Regions from separate parts of the Homo sapiens genome. Here region 1 is linked to region 2. A link means that fine-mapping ties the variant in region 2 to the expression of a gene that starts in the linked region. Tissue or cell type: whole blood. Region 2 holds a variant in brackets; the other region holds the start of a gene. All regions are shown on one strand. Distances are from middle to middle.

Region 1 (8,108 bases), 110 kb after region 2:
CTCCTGGCCTCAAGTGATCCTCCTGCCTTGGCCTCCCAAAGTACTGGGATTACAGGTATAAGCCAACATGCCCAGCCTGAAATTGTTTTTAAAAATTATTTTTTCTCTCTTATAAGTCAAGTGCAGAACAAAAAGAGCTAAACAAACGAAAACACAACAGCAAAAATCTCTGAATAAGTAGCTGTTGGCAACTTTACTATAAGTAGCTCTTGGCAACTTTACTATATGACTGAGGAAGAAGGACTTGATTTAGGTCACTTTTTAGTGACCTTGAGCCCACCCACCCTCCTTGTCCAGAGAGGGTCCCAGAGCACACAGCAGTATGTCCCTTGACACGGCCCACCTGCTCTCTGGGAGAAGAAATCCTTCTGGCACAAGACAAGGGTTCCTTGAGGACAGTCACCTGTCCTGGCCGCCTGGAGGGCCCTTGCTCCCTGGCCTGGGGATGCTGCGCTTTGCCCTTCTCCTCTAGCTCCAGGTTCCTCCTCCTGAAGAACTGCTGCAGTCGAGCTCTCTGGAGCTGCTCTCTCTGTTGGATCCTCAGCGTCTTCCCCACCTGGCGGCAAGTGGTCACATTGGGACGGCAGCGGCGGCTTTCACGGATCTCTTGCCTGCGCTCACACTTGGCCTCATAGCTCTCAGCCCACCGGGCCAAGCCAGGGGAGGGCCTGGGGTCTGGGCTGATCATGATGACCTCCAAGCACCTGTTGCGCTTGGCTTCCAGTTCCTGGAATAGATGCCTGGATCTGCCAAATGCCAAGAGGGAGGAGAAGGGGAGGGGTCAGAAGATGGGCAGAAAAATGACTATCTCCCTAGACCAGGGGGCAGAAATAGCACAGAGTTCCATCCATGTGGGTTGAAAACTGAGGACATGGTGGTATCAAAGTGGGAGTCAGGACTCTTGGGCTCAGTCTCTAATGAACTAATACAGTCTTATAAAAGTGAATTCCTGCTTTTCTCTAGCCGATGTTTCCCCTTTGTAAAGTAAAAGGGTCTCTATGGCTGCCACTTACTCCTTGACTGAACATCTTACCATGCCTCTGAGTCAGGGGAACATGAGAAATAATTGATTAAAATCATAATGAGCTTATAGCCTCTTGGATGGCAGGTGTGTGTTCATTTTCCAGACTTCTAGAGAAGCAGCTAAGTTGAGCCAATCTGCCCTCTTATCCCCCAGTTGAAAAGGAAAGTCAGTATCTTTACTGGTCTCTTGGTCCAAGCTGTCACTAACATAGTTGAGTGACACTTCTCAAGGATCTGGAGGGCTAACCACACCCCCTCAGGTGGTGACCAGTCCTGTGACCAGCACCCACTGCTCTCTTCTTGACTTTTAGCAACGAGCTTGTGAGCCTGGACCTGGCATGGTTTAGGAGGGAAACCCTACCCTAATTCCTCCAACCTGCTGTCCTGACAATGGTCCATGGGCCCCCCACTCCAAGCTCAGGACTGGGCTGTGTCTCTCAGGTGCAGATCAAGTCCAATCAATATTGACTGAGCATCTGCCACATGCCTAGTGCTGGCCAAAACCCATTTCAGAGCATCTGGCTCCAATACTGTTGGGGCTGAGGGTTCCATTTCTTTAGGATTACCAACCTGTCAGGGTTAATGTTGGTGCCAAGTCTGCTTTCCTTAGCCCAGACACAGATTGTGCCATCCAAACCCACAAGCACATGAATTGTACCTCAATAAGGCTGCTGCAAACAGAAAAGAAACAAAACAAAGACAGTAATCAGAAGTTTCCAGGGAGCCAGGCTTGGTGTAGGGGCCACAGGATGACCCTCTGCATGGCCTTACCTGATATTCACATAGCACCTAGACCTGAATCCCCTTTTCCTTCTCTGTGCCTTTCTCTTTCCTACTCTTCCCCACCTACCTTCTGTAGTTTATCCTCCTAGAACCCTCTGGTCACTTTGCTGAGTTGGGCTGGATTTGGATGAGCTGGATCCTGAGCGTTGGAAATTCTGTGTCCTGCCTCCTCTGATCACTGGAGTCAGACCAGGGACTGATGAAGGAAGAGGGACTCCCCCTCACAGCTGCTGCTGCTTCTCTTCCTCCCACGACCTCATTACCCACCACCCTGGGAGGAGGGTATCTCAGCTTCACCAACTAGCAGGCATTTGCTAGCTCTAACCCCTTGGGGTTTATTTATAGGCCAAACAGACTCAACAGGTAGCAGACTCTCTGCCCCTTTACTGGGACTTCGCTACTCTGGCTCAGTCTGGAATTCTCTGCAGGATTCTTGTTTTCTCTCTGATCCTACCACTCATTCCCCAGGGTCATGGGTGGGGCAGTCTTCTTCCCTGAGAGGAGTTTTGTGTGGTCAAGCCCTGGACACTCAAATGCCTGACTCTTGAGGGTTGGAGGGGCATACTCTGGTGTCAGGCAGCATTGATTCCAAGCAGAAATGTGAGGTTATTAATGTTTGTCCTCTACATACCCATTCTGAATGGCTCTCTTCTTTGTTTTTCCTTACTTCTTCTTCTCGGATAAGGGTGGGAGTGGGCATAGGGGGTGGTCCCTTGACTTCTTCCCTGCCACTTTCTTTATTTAAAGACTTAAAAGAAAGGGTCTGAGAGACCCATGTCTATTGTTATAAATGACTGAATGGAGGAGACGCAGGATTATGTGCATGTGAACTCCATGTCTAGAACCTACACTCACAGCATCCCTGAGCCACAGCCCCTGGCTATTCTGCCATGGATTGCAGTGGAGAACCCTGGCTCTTGGAGTCACACTGCGTGGACTCATGTCCTGGCTCTGTCACCTACAACCTGTGTGTGTTTTTAGATAAGCTATTAAACATCTCTAAGCCCCAGTCTCCTCATTTATAAAATGGGGCTAGGACCTGCCTTGTAGGTTATAAGGATTAAATGACAAAATGCAGGCCATGCACCTGGCATGGAGCACACAATAAATGTTACCTTTTAATAATAAAGACATAAAGTATTCCTATTAGGTTGGTGCAAAAGTAATTGCGAATATTATCCTTGTTATGCCGATGTTGGATATTGAAGACTTGGTGCTGTAAGACAAAGGCTCCAAGCTAAACTAGCACTTCTAGGACCAAGAATGCCTTCTCTCATCCTCTCAACCCTCTCTCTCTTTGACAGAGTATATTGTTTACCAGATTGAGGGGATGCTGGCCCCAGGCTGAAGTCACATTTACTTCTGACCTCTGGGTTTGGGCTATAAGGAGAAAGGCTTCTCTGTGGTCTGGACATAATTGCCATCCCAATTACACCAAGCCGAAAGGTAAGGAAGAGATGGGGTCTGCCTGTGTCACACATAAGGTGTGAGGTCCCCTCCCTGTTTGGCTCAGCTTCCCCACAGGTTTTGTAGTGGAGGCAGAACATTGAGAATCCTCCTACCTTCTTGCCGCGAAGAGGAAAGGGCTGTGGGGGAGAAGACAGTGCCTGAGATGAGGTCTCTCTGGGCTCTCCACCCAGGCCACCAACCTTAGTCCACTGAAACACACAGCTGCTCTGCTCTCTGCTTCCTTGGGGCAGACATGGAGCCTTCTTACCCAAGAAAGGAGCTGCAGTGGAAATGGCTCCTTAGAGAGGGGAGTGTTCCCAGATGCCTTGGCTACCACACCTGCTAGGATTTGGTGCAGCATGCTGCATAGAACCCTACCCAGGTTTCTGGGATATCTGGACCCTACTGACTTGCTTGAAAACAAGAAGGTATGTGGGACGGCTGACAGGGGTAGGCTGCTAAAGAAAAGGGAACTGGTCCCTGTAGGGTTCAAAGAAAGATCACTTGGCCACTGCCCAGGCTTTCTGGCATCTCTCAGGTTCCCCCCTGGCAGCATGACTGGGCTCACTTAGAGCTTGGAGGAAGAAGGTTTACTGGCTGGGAAGGCTCAGCCTGGTCTCTCAGGCTGCAGAGAGAGAACAGGGCATGGCTCCTCACCTGACTGTGGCTTGACATGCCTTTCTGAGTCTCGCTTTTACTTCCTGGCCATGTTTGTAATGGAGACAATGAATGGCTTCCTGCATGGGTTGGCCTTCCTGGCCCAGAGCTCTCAGTGTGAACTGAGGGGAGAGGGGCCTGCGCTTAAGCTGCTGGGAAGGCAGTCTTGTGTTCAGGGATCCCTGCTTTGAAGAAAACTGTAAAAGGTCATTTAATTCATGCCCATATCACTGGGTAGCCTGAACTCTAAGTCGTTTGACTCACTCCTAATCTAATGTAATCTAATCTACTGGAACAGAGGAGTGGTGCAAGCTGTACCCTGTGCCATGGCTAGCGCCACAGGAAACCAATACAGGATACTTTCTTGGTTACCCAAACCCCTGACACCCTTAAACTATGCCACCCACTCTCCACCCAGGGGAGCTGGGATGGTAGAGCATCTTCTGCCCTACCCCGAAGTTGGAGTTCCCAAACCTGGACACAAAAGCATCCTCCTTCTCAGTTACCTCCTAGTCCCAGGCTCCAACTCAAGCCACTCGGGAAAGCATTCCAGTCCTGGGCAGATCTTGGCTCTGGTCTCAGATGGAGCAAGACAGCAGATGGGTAAAGCACACGCTTTCAATCCATAGGTCTGGGCCCCATTAACACGTCCCTTCTTGGTACCGTCTTTCTTTTTGCACAGCAGCCTTGCTGAAACAGGAAACAGACAAAGCCACAAGGTTCGCAAACCCCAGTTCCTCTCTCTTGCTCTCTGGTATCATCTAAGTGGGCCCCTGAACTCTGAGGCCTCCAGGGCTGGGCTCAGGAGCTCCTCCCATCAGTAGGCACCCCGGCCACCCTTTCTCTTGCTACTGGATTGGTCGGAGCTCTTGGACAGTTTCAAGTCAAGATTCCTTTCCATGATTAGAAAAGGATAGTCCTCTGGGTCAGATTCAGACCTTTGTGGTTTCTATGAGAGGGAAAAAAATGCCTTTTTGGTGGTAAGACCTAGATGAGATGTTCTCAGTGTAGGCTTTCATGTGTATCAGGTAGTTCTTTGTGTAAGGATTTTCCTTTTTCTTTAGCCACCTCTTCCCAATCCTGGTGTTGTAAAGAGTTTCTGCTCTTCTGAAGTAGGTGGTGTCTTTCTCAGATTCTGGAATGAGACCAACTCTGGATTTGCTCCTTTCTGGAGCAATGAGGAGGGAGTGTAAAGGTGGGTAGCTGGGGGATGAAGGAAGGAATAGAAGGCAGAGTCTTCTACACATTTTTTTATCTGGTCAACCGGACTAGGAAATTTAGGGAAAAACTAAAGGGAACTGATTTGCATGCATTAAGATGAAGCCATCACAAATGATGCAGCCAGGAAATTCCCAAGAAGTTCAGGCTAAAATAGTGGAGAGGAAACTGGATTGGGACAAGTTAACTGAGCAGCTTTGTAACCTTGTAAAATTCACCTTGTCTGGATGCTACTCACTGTGGTAGTTGGGTGATGTATGTGGCTCTTTGGAATTCTAAGGTTTGACACATGTGAGGCAGGTAATGAGACTTAAAAATAGCTGTGATAACATTTATTAACATGTGGAGAGTTTGTCACCATTTTCTCTGCTTCTGCTTCTTTCTCTGTTCTTTGAGGAGAAAAAGGACAAGGAATCGGCAGGGAAAAGCAGAGGATGGATTCTCAAGCACTAGGACTGAAGACAAGTGGCATTTACTCAGGATGAGAGACAACAGCTCAAGGCCCTGTGTCTGGAGCTTGACACATAGAGATGGGAATGAGTAGAGGACAGAGGGCTTGGGGAGCCCAAGATGTCAGAAAAAGAGAATTTTGGCCGGGCACAGTGGCTCACACCTGTAATCCCAGCACTTTGGGAGGTCCAGGTGGGTGGATCACTTGAGGTCAAGAGTTCAAGACTAGCCTGGCCAACATGGTGAAACCCCATCTCTACCAAAAATATAAAAAATTAGCCGGATGTCATGGCATGTGCCTGTAAACCCAGCTACTTGGGAGGCTGAGGCACAAGAATCGCTTGAACCTGGGAGGCAGAGGTTGCAGTGAGCCAAGAATGTGCCACTGCACTCTAGCCTGGGCGACAGAGTGAGACGGAGTTTCACTCTTGTTGCCTAAGCTGGAGTGCAATTGCGCGATCTCGGTTCACTGCAACCTCCGCCTCCCAGGTTCAAGCAATTCTCCTGCCTCAGCCTCCTGAGTAGCTGGGATTACAGGCATACGCCACCATGCCTGGATAATTTTTTGTATTTAGTAGAAATGGGGTTTCAACCATGTTAGTCAGGCTGGACTCAAACTACTGACCTCAGGTGATCCACCTGCCTCGGCCTCCCAAAGTGCTGCGATCACAGGCATGAGCCACCACGCCTGGCCAGAGAATTTTTATTGGCATAGAAGAGTGAGAAGATTCTGGGAGTTCAGGGCATTAGAGCGTAAAGAAAGACAGGAGATTTTAATAGGAGTTCCTATAGAGACCTACTATTTGGACTCCATTAAACATCAGAAAGAAATGTCTACAAAGTCCGCAGTCATTGGGATACTAATCCCATGATAACTGGGATTTAGAGTGGTCAATGATATGCTCAAGATCACACAGAAAGTGTTGGACCCAGGTTTGCTTGACAGTAGGTTTGAGCCCTTAACATTGTGTTCTGAGAACAAAACAATTAATAAGGTTGTCATACCTATCTATCTATATTGAAAAAGACACACACACACACACAGAACTTTGAGAATAGAAAATATACCTTATTTTCAAATGCCCACGAGACATTAAAAAAATTGACCATATGGATCAAAAAGTAAACCTCAGTATATGTTTTGAAAAGTTGATCTATTATGGCAGGATTTTCTGACCACAGTACAATACAATTGAAATAAATAACAAAAGATGGAAGAAAGAAACACTTTAACTTCTTGGAAAAAAATTCTTCCCATTTACTCTGAAAAGATAGAGGGAATTTCAAATCTGCAATTAAGAATGCATTGAAAACGGTGATAGTGGCAACATTATGAGGAAAATCTGTGAGGTATGGCCAAGCAGAATGCAAGGAAAATTCCTAGCTTTAAACATTTTCATTACCTAAATCAAGAAGATTAAAAATAAATTTCCTATTCATTTATTTTCAAATGAATTGCTAAAAAATGATCAGAAAAAAAGGAGGTGAGAATTTTGAAATGATAAAAGGAGAATATATAATAAGTTAGAATCCTGTTTAAAATTGATAAAAAAAATTCAGTTTTGTGTGTGCATCTGGCAGGGGGAGGAATGGTAGACATACAAATAGAAAACAAAATCAATAAAATAAAATATCAGCGAGCCAAATCAATTTAAAAAAGAGAAAAGACATTATAAAAGTTTAGGAATGATACATGGAAAGTAGCCACGATACGGTGGAAATTAATTATAGAGAGTCATTTGTGTAACTATGCTAATGATTTTTAAAATCTAGATAAAATGGATTTAAGAAAATGAATTTACCAAATTAAGCTCAAGTAGAGATTTGTAGTGTAATCATCAGCTGGCCTCCAATAGAGGGTTTAATTCAGGCTGCTCTTGAGCTGGGCACCAGGCTTTTAGTGGCCAGTATCCTTTGCTTCTCCTCATCATTTCCAGGTTCAATGGGAACAACGGCTCCCTTTTTTGATGGTCATATTCTGAAACAGTTTCCTTGATAGATGCTGGGCCCTGTGTAGTCCCCCATGAGGCGATGAGTATGGGGTAAGCTACCCTTTCCTTTATAGCCTGGTTGCTTCACAATACCACACAAGCATGTGTAAGATTATCAGATTTTATTGTACAGTTGGGGTAACTAAACTATATGCTAATATGACTTCTCCCATACTCCAAGAGACAGCACTAAGGAGTTAAAAAAATTTTTTTTTTCTTGAGATGGAGTTTCGCTCTGTTGCCCAAGCTGGAGTGCAGTGGCATGATCTCAGCTCACTGCAACCTCTGCCTCCCGGGTGCCTCAGCCTCTGGAGTAGCTGGGATTATAGGCATGCACCACCACGTCTGGCTAATTTTTTGTATTTTTAGTAGAGACGGGGTTTTGCAATGTTGGCCCGGCTGGTCTCGAACTCCTGACCTTAAGTGATCCACCTGCCTTAGCCTCCCAAAGTACTAGGATTACAGGCATGAGCCACCATGAAGTTAAACACTTTATGGGGGTCCCCTCATGGGTGTTACCAGTTCTAATCCCACTCC
Region 2 (8,108 bases):
AGGAATTATTGTTATTTAAAAAGATGCTGAAGATCATCTACACCTAGGGTTGGCAAAATATGGCCTGTGGGTCAAACCCAGCCCACTGCCTGTTTTTGTAAATAAAGTTTTATTGGAACACGGCCACACATTGCCTATGGCTGCTTTTGTACTACAACTGCAGAATTGAGTAGTTGTGACAGAAACTGTATTACTAATAGAGACTACGCATTTACTATCTGGCCTTTTACTCAGAAAGTTTGCTGACCCCCAGTTTAGAGTACTACTCTCATTTGACATAAAAGGAAATTGAGGCCAGGGAGAGGAAATGACTTTCTCAGACTCATTAATGGTACAACTGAGACTATACTCTAGGTCTCACTTTCCAGTTTCTCTTTTTGAATATTCCTGTTTCTTCCCTGGAATGACAAATGTTCACGTTGAAGATGTGATTCAGAGGGGGCTAGGAAAGTGTCCCCATGTTTCTGTGCTTAGCTAAGGAAATATCTGTGAACTTCCTTTCAGAGCTGGTGGGTGATGTTCTATTGTCCCATCTATGTCCATTTTAAAGGGTGACAGTGTCTCAACTTGAACCTCAACTTTATTTACTTTGGATCCAGACACCCCTGAGCATATTTGGAGAATCATGGCCAAATGGGCCATGGGGCCCCCTAAGGGGCCTTTCTCATGAGTCCCCCAGGAGAGTTCACCTGAAGGAGCAAAGGGTAGAGCTGCACAAATCTGGGTCCATGAGAGAGGAGCAGAGAAACCCAGATGGTGCTAAGGGCACCTGCCTGACTCCTAGGCAGAAAGGGCTGCCATAAGGAGAGAATTAAGTGAGTCATTCCACAGACCCTAGCAGGGGCATGGAGGGCATCAGACAGCACAGGGCACTTGTGGCCCTGGTGCCAGTGGCTTTGGCATGAATGGTGGTGTCTGTGCTCTGGTGGTGTCCAGGTAGCTGCACAGGAGTATGTGATCTCTGGAATGAAACTCAGCACAGGAATTCAGGGCAGAACTAGAGAGAAATGATGGTTACTGGTGTTACGTACCAGAGGATTGTGCTATGTGCCCATGTGGAGTGCTCCTTGGGGTGCCCTAGAACCAGCAGGGAAGAAAAGGCAGGGGCTGGGAGGGTTCATAGCAGCAAATGGGGCTGAACCAGATAAATACTCTCTTTTTTAAAAATCCTAGGCTAGTACAGCAAGTGACAGTAACAGTTACAAGTGTTAATCCTCTCATTTGCCTCTGCCAGTGTTAGAATATCATAGAGGTGAATTTGAGTTCTTCCCAAGCCATATCCCCTGAGGTGGACAGCAAAGCCTCCAAAGCTCCATCGCTGAGTTTATTAATCCTGGTTCAATAGGGCAGGGAGATCCTCCAAGTCATTCAACAAGCAATTCCCTTACTGTCAGATACCACTTGTCTATAAACACAGCCCATGCAGTTGATGCTATTGGCACAACCACCTAAACTTGAGTGGGATCCAGAGAAATGGCTTCTGGCCTGTGAAGGAAAAAGCAAAAGAAAACAAACACTTGTTTAACAATGATTTAATTCTCTTCCTAATAGGAAAGTCTCGCTCATAAGTCTAGGACTTAAGCTGTCAGACAAGGAGAGGTAAGTCTATTCACTTCAGATAGGTGGTTATTTCTACCTTCCACCTAAAGAATGTGGATGGAAATGTCAGGGGAGGAAAAGAAGCCAGGGATTGCAGGTTGGATTAGATCACTCTGAAAACCATTTTCTGGGTTTATGGGTGATCATGCATTGTGGTTTTTATTTATAGGCAAGTGGTAGCTTACCAAGAGTGACGCTAGGCACATTGCATACTCTGCCTACTTTTCCTTCCCTGACTTTTCCATCTAAACTCACAGAGGCAGATAAGAGGATTAACACTTCTAACTGCTACTGTCACCTGCTATACCAGCCCAGGATTTTTTTAAAAAGAGAGAGAGCATTTCTCTGGTTCCAATTACTCATGATTAGGGGCCAGACTCTGTAAAATGAGATGTTAACTTGAAAAGATAGCTACATTGCAAATGACTCTTGTTCAGTAGAAAGGCAAAAGAATTCTGTCAAATAGAAAACATAACCCCAAAGGGTCTGATCTTGCTGCTGTGTAGGACATTAAACAGTTTTGCCTAGCTTTGCAAACCCACTTCTACATCCTTACTTTCAATGATCATAGAAAACAGCCTCTTGTATTCTCCTTTGATTTGGATTTGTCTTCCTACTGGTTCCCTCACTAATAAGTTAGATCAATCTTCGACTATATCTGTATGAGAATCATGTTTTTAACATTGAATAGCAACCCCCTTCTCCAAACTTCTCTGTGGGCTTCTCTGTTTATAATTATCCATCTTATTCTCTATGCATCATAATGAATTGGACTCATCTGGCTTTCATTTCTTAGCTGGGAGATTAGACAAAGTCTCTTTGTTTTATTTTTTTAAAAAAGAAAGTTCCTTTCGTGTCTACTTTAAGCCTATTCCCTTCAGCAAGTTGTTTAGTGACCTTTTGGGCCCAGCATTGTGCTAGTTACTCCATAAATCATAGAAGAAAGGTCATAGCCCCTGTCCTTAAGTATCTTACAGACCAAATGGAGAGATGCATCATGTCATTTCTCCATAATTTTTTAATAATAGTCATCTGTTTTGAGACATTGCCATGGCATGTGCAGACCAGTTAGCTACCTTGAGCGCTAAGGCTAATCTGATTTTACTCCAGGATCTAGAAGAAAAAAAAAGTAGCAAGAAAGATGACTGTAGCTGTAACAAGTTTCAGCCTCTGTTGGCTCCCACCCAAACTAATCGGCCTGGGAGATTGATTTCCCTTCCAGCCAGCATCTTGTTCAGCATTTCTGCTCATCATGCTTCTGGCATTGCTTCCTCAGAGGACTGTCCATCATTCCTAAATGATCTCTGGTCCTCTTGATAAAACAGCAGACAGATGCTGGGGATACAGAATTGAAATTCAAAAATATACCTGATTTGCAGACTCATTCCCTCCTCCTTGTTACCCTGGCTTCTCTCACCAGAGAGAACCATCAAGCAGTCTAGCAGTGAATTGGGAAGTTTGTGTGTGTGTGTGTGGGTGGGGGGTGTGTTGAGGGTGGGAGTGGGAGTAAAAGGGAGAAGATTCCTGGGATGAGTTTGAGGGGAGAAAGCTTCTAAGCAGCGATTCTCTAAACTCTCTGAATTCTTATAGGCCCATCTTTGAGGGATATTTTGGAGAATGATGTTGATTTTACTGTCTCTTCAAGGTCAGAAACAAAGGCCAGTTTGTTTAGTGTTAATACAAAGATAGAAGGAGGAAAGAGCAGGCTTTAGTGCCCACATGTTCATTTGGATACAAGGCTAAGAACTTCGGGGTGGGGGTGAACTGGGGAGGGGATGACCATACTTGTGCTAAAGTACTTTATAAATGAAACCCAGCTGAGGCTCTCCCAGGCCCTTCAGATCCAGATAAGGTTTGTTTGAACTGTCTGGACTGTGGAAAGCTACAGCCCTCTCCCATATTTCTGTGAATTATTAAGGGATCTATATGATCTTATTAGCTCTGGCTCCAGCTTTCTGCCCCAGCTGAGTTCTTGATCCCTGCCCTATTGCTTGTGGCTGTTCTTTATTTTCACTCTGGCTTTAACCCAAACATGAAAGAACTTGGCCCTCTTTCCTTGCTTTCCACAAAATAACCATTCACACATGGAAATGAAGGAGATTTCTATGCAGCAACATGAGCTATTTTAAATGGCACAGCAGATATTCCTCTTCTTAAAAGTTCTTTGGCTACCCTGCCTTCTTGCCCTGCCATCCCCCAAATCTTCTTGTTCTTTTGTGCAAAGGCAGTGTGTTCTAACAGGAGCATGAAGGTTGCCTGCTAGAGTTCCTATCCTAGTCTAACGCTTACTCGCTGTATACCTTAGGTAAGTCACTTCAACTCTCCATGCCTCATTCTTCTCATCTGTAAAATGGATTTAATAGCCCACCTATCTCATAAAGTAGTTGTGAGAATAAAAGGAGATAGATATTGCCAATACGCTCATTAAAAGATGCTTGCCACCATTAGTTAACAGGGAAATAGAAATCAAAATCACGATGAGATACCACCACCACGAAGATGGCCAGAATAAAAAATTCAGATAACAACAAGCGTTGGTGAGAATGTGAAGAAATCAGAACCCTTATAGATGGCTGATGGAAATGTAAAATGGTGCAGCTGCTTTGAAAAACAGTTTGGCAAGTTCTCAAATAGTTCAACATAGAGTTACTATAGAACTCAGCGATCCACTCTTAGTTGTATACCAAAGAGAAATGAAAACAACGTCCACACAAAAACTTGTGCCTGAACGTTTATAGCAGCATTATTTATTATAGCCAAAAGGTGGAAACAACCCAACGTCCATCAACTGACAAATGGATACATGAAATGTGTTAAATTCATACAGTGGAATATGTTCAACTACAAAAAAGACCAAAGTGCCAACATAAGCTATAATAACATGGAAGAATCCTGAAAGCATTGTGCTATGTAAAAGAAGCCAGTTGTAACAGATCACATACTATAGCATTCTATTCATGTGAAAAAGAAAGAGAGAAACCTACAGAAAGTAGGTGAGCGGTTGCTCAGGACTGA[G/C]GGGTGGGGTGTGGGGAAGAGGAGGGTAGTAGCTAAGGGACATGGGGTTTCTTTTTGAGGTGATGAAAATGTTCTAAAATTAACTGTGGTATTGTTTGTACATATCTGCGAATACTCTGAAAGCCATTGATCGTACCCTTTATGTGGGTACATTGTATGGTATGTGAATTATATCTTAACAAACTGTTTTTTTAAAAAAAAGGAAATGTATATTTATATTTATAACAGTGCCTAGCACACAGAAAAGCTCAGGGACCTGAGAGGAAACAGATGGCACATTGATGTGAGTTATTAAGGAGAGATTAATGAAGTATCTATTCACAGAGGTGTGGGCAGGGTCAGGGGAAATGAACAAGAGATGCTGGAGTGTCCCAGGGCAAGGGGAGGAATCCAGAGGCTGGGCTGTAGTAGAGAGGGTGGCCCAGCAGGAGCTGTGGCTTTCATAGAGACAGCAGCCACCACCCACCTGCAGCCCAGCAGGGAGACCCTGAGAACCAAGGCCTCCACATGATCAGACATCATTTGCTGGGGCTTCTCTTGGCTGGACCCGTCCGAGAGCTCGAAGAGCCATTGAGGAGCCCACAGATGTCTCCTGGAGCAGAAGCTGTTATTATTATGTGCACCAGCTTAGCCTTCGTTTGTTTTGTCACATCTTAACAGCCCCACCTTAGTGCCAATCTTCTACGGCCATGCTTTTCCCACCAATTGGTCCAATAAGGTAGGTTCTTAACTAAGAGGTTTGCTTACTAAGAGGTTTGGGTACTTTTCTATCGGGGGAACTCACCCCCAATATTTCAACGTAGGTTCTTTCTATTTTCTCCAAGTGTCAGCTGGTCTGAGAAATAGAAAGAGTACAAAGAGAGGAATTTTACAGCTGGGCCGCTGGGGGTGACATCACATATCGGTAGGTCCATGATGCCCACCTGAGCCACAAAACCAACAGGTTTTTATTGAGGACTTTAAAAGGGGAGGGGGTGTATGAACAGGGAGTAGGTCACAAAGATCACATGCTTCAAAGGGCAAAAAGGAGAACAAAGATCACATGCTTCTGAGGCCAATAAAGATCACGAGGCAAAGGGCAAAGCAAAGATCACGAGGCACAGACAAAATAAAAAACTCCTGATAAGGGTCTATGTTCAGCTGTGCACATATTGTCTTGATAAACATCTTAAACAACAGAAAACAGGGCTCGAGAGCAGAGAACTGGTCTGACCTCAGATTTACCAGGGAGCAGTTTTTTCCCCCATCCTAATAAGCCTGAGTACTGCAGGAGACCAGGGCGTATTTCAGTCCTTATCTCAACCGCATAAGACAGACACTCCCAGAGCAGCTGTTTATAGACCTCCCACCAGGAATGCATTCCTTCCCCAGGGAATTAATTATTAATATTCCTTGCTGGGAAAATAATTCAGCAATATCTTCCCTACTTGCACATCCATTTATAGGGTCTCTGCAAGAAGAAAAATATGGCTGTATTCTGCCTGACCCTGCAGGCAGTCAGACCTTATGGTTGCCTTCCCTTGTTCCCTACAATTGCTGTTATTCTGTTCATTTTCAAGGTGCACTGATTTCATATTGTTCAAACACACATGTTCTACAGTCAATTTGTACAGTTAACACAATAGTGGTCCTGAGGTGACATACATCCTCAGCTTACGAAGATAACAGGATTAAGAGATTAAAGACAGGCATAAGAAATAATTATAAAAGTATTAATTTGGGGAACTGATAAATGTCCATATTAAAATGAAATCTTCACAATTTATGTTCCTCTGCCACGGCTCCAGCTGGTCCCTCCATTCGGGGGTCCCTGACTTCCCGCAACACTTTTCTGTAGCAAAATATTTGCAGGCTTCTGCAAAGATGCCCTACAGACTTTATCCTAGACTGGCTGGAGAAAGAAAACTAAAACATCAGAATGCTTTCCCCAGGCTATACACAGAGGGTGGGAGTGGGTGGAAGGAAACAAATAGGGCTGAAGTGTGGGGTACCACACTTTTGCAGCCCACATGGAGGAAGTACCAAGAGTGTAGGCAGATAAGAAACAGATTTTCAGCTTCCCCTTCTAGTAACCACACCTCCACAGGCTTGTATTTATTCCTCCCCGATGTAATTTCCTCCTGGAAGTGTGGCCTCCTTTCTCAGTGGCCTTTTTTTTGGACAGACTGGTGAATCTATATTTGCATTAAAGTCTGGGCAGAAAGGGGACCTGAATACATGTTATGGGCTGAATTGTGTTTCCCCAAAATCCCTATCTTGAGATCCTAACCCCCAGTAGTTCAGAATGTGACTGTATTTGGAGATTGAGTCTTTAAAAAGGTAATTAAAGTGGGCCAGGCGTGGTGGCTTATGCCTGTAATCCCAGAACTTTGGGAGGCCAAGGCAGGTGGATCACCTGAGGTCAGGAGTTCAAGACCAGCCTGGGCAACATGGTGAAATCCCCGTCTCTACTAAAAATACAAAAATTAGCCGAGCATGGTGGCAGGCACCTGTAATCCCAGCTACTTGGGAGACTGAGGCAGGAGAATCCCTTGATCCCGGGAGGAGGAGGTTGCAGTGAGCTGAGATCACACCATTGCACTCCAGCCTAGGCAACAGAGTGAGATTCAGTATAGAAAAAAAAATTATTTTTTAAAAAAAGGTAATTAAGGTAAAAGGAGGTTATTAGGGTGGGCCCTAATCCAATCTGATATGCATCCTTATAAGAAGAGAAGGACAAAGACAGACAGACAGAGGGAAGACCATGTGAAGACACAGGCAGGTCTCAGAAGAAACCACCCCAGCTAACACCTTGATCTTCGACTTTTAGCCTCCAGAATTAAAAATCAGTTTTGGTTATTTACTTATTTATTGTTTTTTGAGACAGGGTCTCACTCTGTCAACCAGTCTGGAGTACAGCCTCCGTCTCCCAGGCTCACTGCAGCTTTGATCTCCCAGGTTCAGCAATCCTCCTGCCTCAGCCTCCCACATACCTGGGACTACAGGCATGTGTCACCATGCCCAACTAATTTTATAAAATTATTTTTTGGAGAGACAGGATCTCACTATGTTGTCCAGGCTGGTCTCAAACTCCTAGGCTCAAGTGATCCTCCTGCCTCGGCCTCCCAAAGTGCTGGGATTACAGGCATGAGCCACCGTGCCCAGCCAAATTTTAGTTTTTGAAGCCACTCAGTCTGTAGTACATTGTTATGGCAACCCTAGCAAACTAACACACTACTCCTTGCAGGATGTTAGTTGCCCACCTTTCTCCTGCAACTCGTGGCTTTACAAGGTTGAGAGCAAAGTCCCTTGAATTAGGGTTTTGCTTCCCGCCTCTGCCCTATTGTTTACTCATAAGAAGAGCATTTGGGATGCTTTGCTGTTTTGTTCCAAGTATATATTCTGTTTATAAAACTTAGGAGTATAAGGAGTATCACCTTTTCTCTTTTTCTTTCTTTTCTTTCTTCTTCTTTTTTTTTTTTTTTTTTGATGGAGTTTCACCCTTTGTTGCCCAG

What was found. PIP is the estimated chance that this variant, and not a neighbour inherited with it, causes the effect.
Region 1: TRAF3IP3 starts here. The variant in region 2 is fine-mapped to the expression of TRAF3IP3 in whole blood (TOPMed, PIP 0.96).

What each region holds. Positions count from the first base shown.
Region 1 is chr1:209,752,620-209,760,727 of GRCh38, reverse strand. It overlaps TRAF3IP3 (TRAF3 interacting protein 3), which reads right to left and starts at 4,675. Exons shown (of 17, transcript NM_025228.4): 1 at 4,419-4,675; 2 at 1,594-1,694; 3 at 344-746. The coding sequence starts at 688. RefSeq lists enhancers at 4,103-4,512, 4,793-4,952.
Region 2 is chr1:209,864,928-209,873,035 of GRCh38, reverse strand. No RefSeq gene overlaps it. Among named protein-coding and RNA genes, the nearest start is that of UTP25, 41 kb to the right of the region's middle. The variant G/C (reference allele first, on the strand shown) is at 4,615.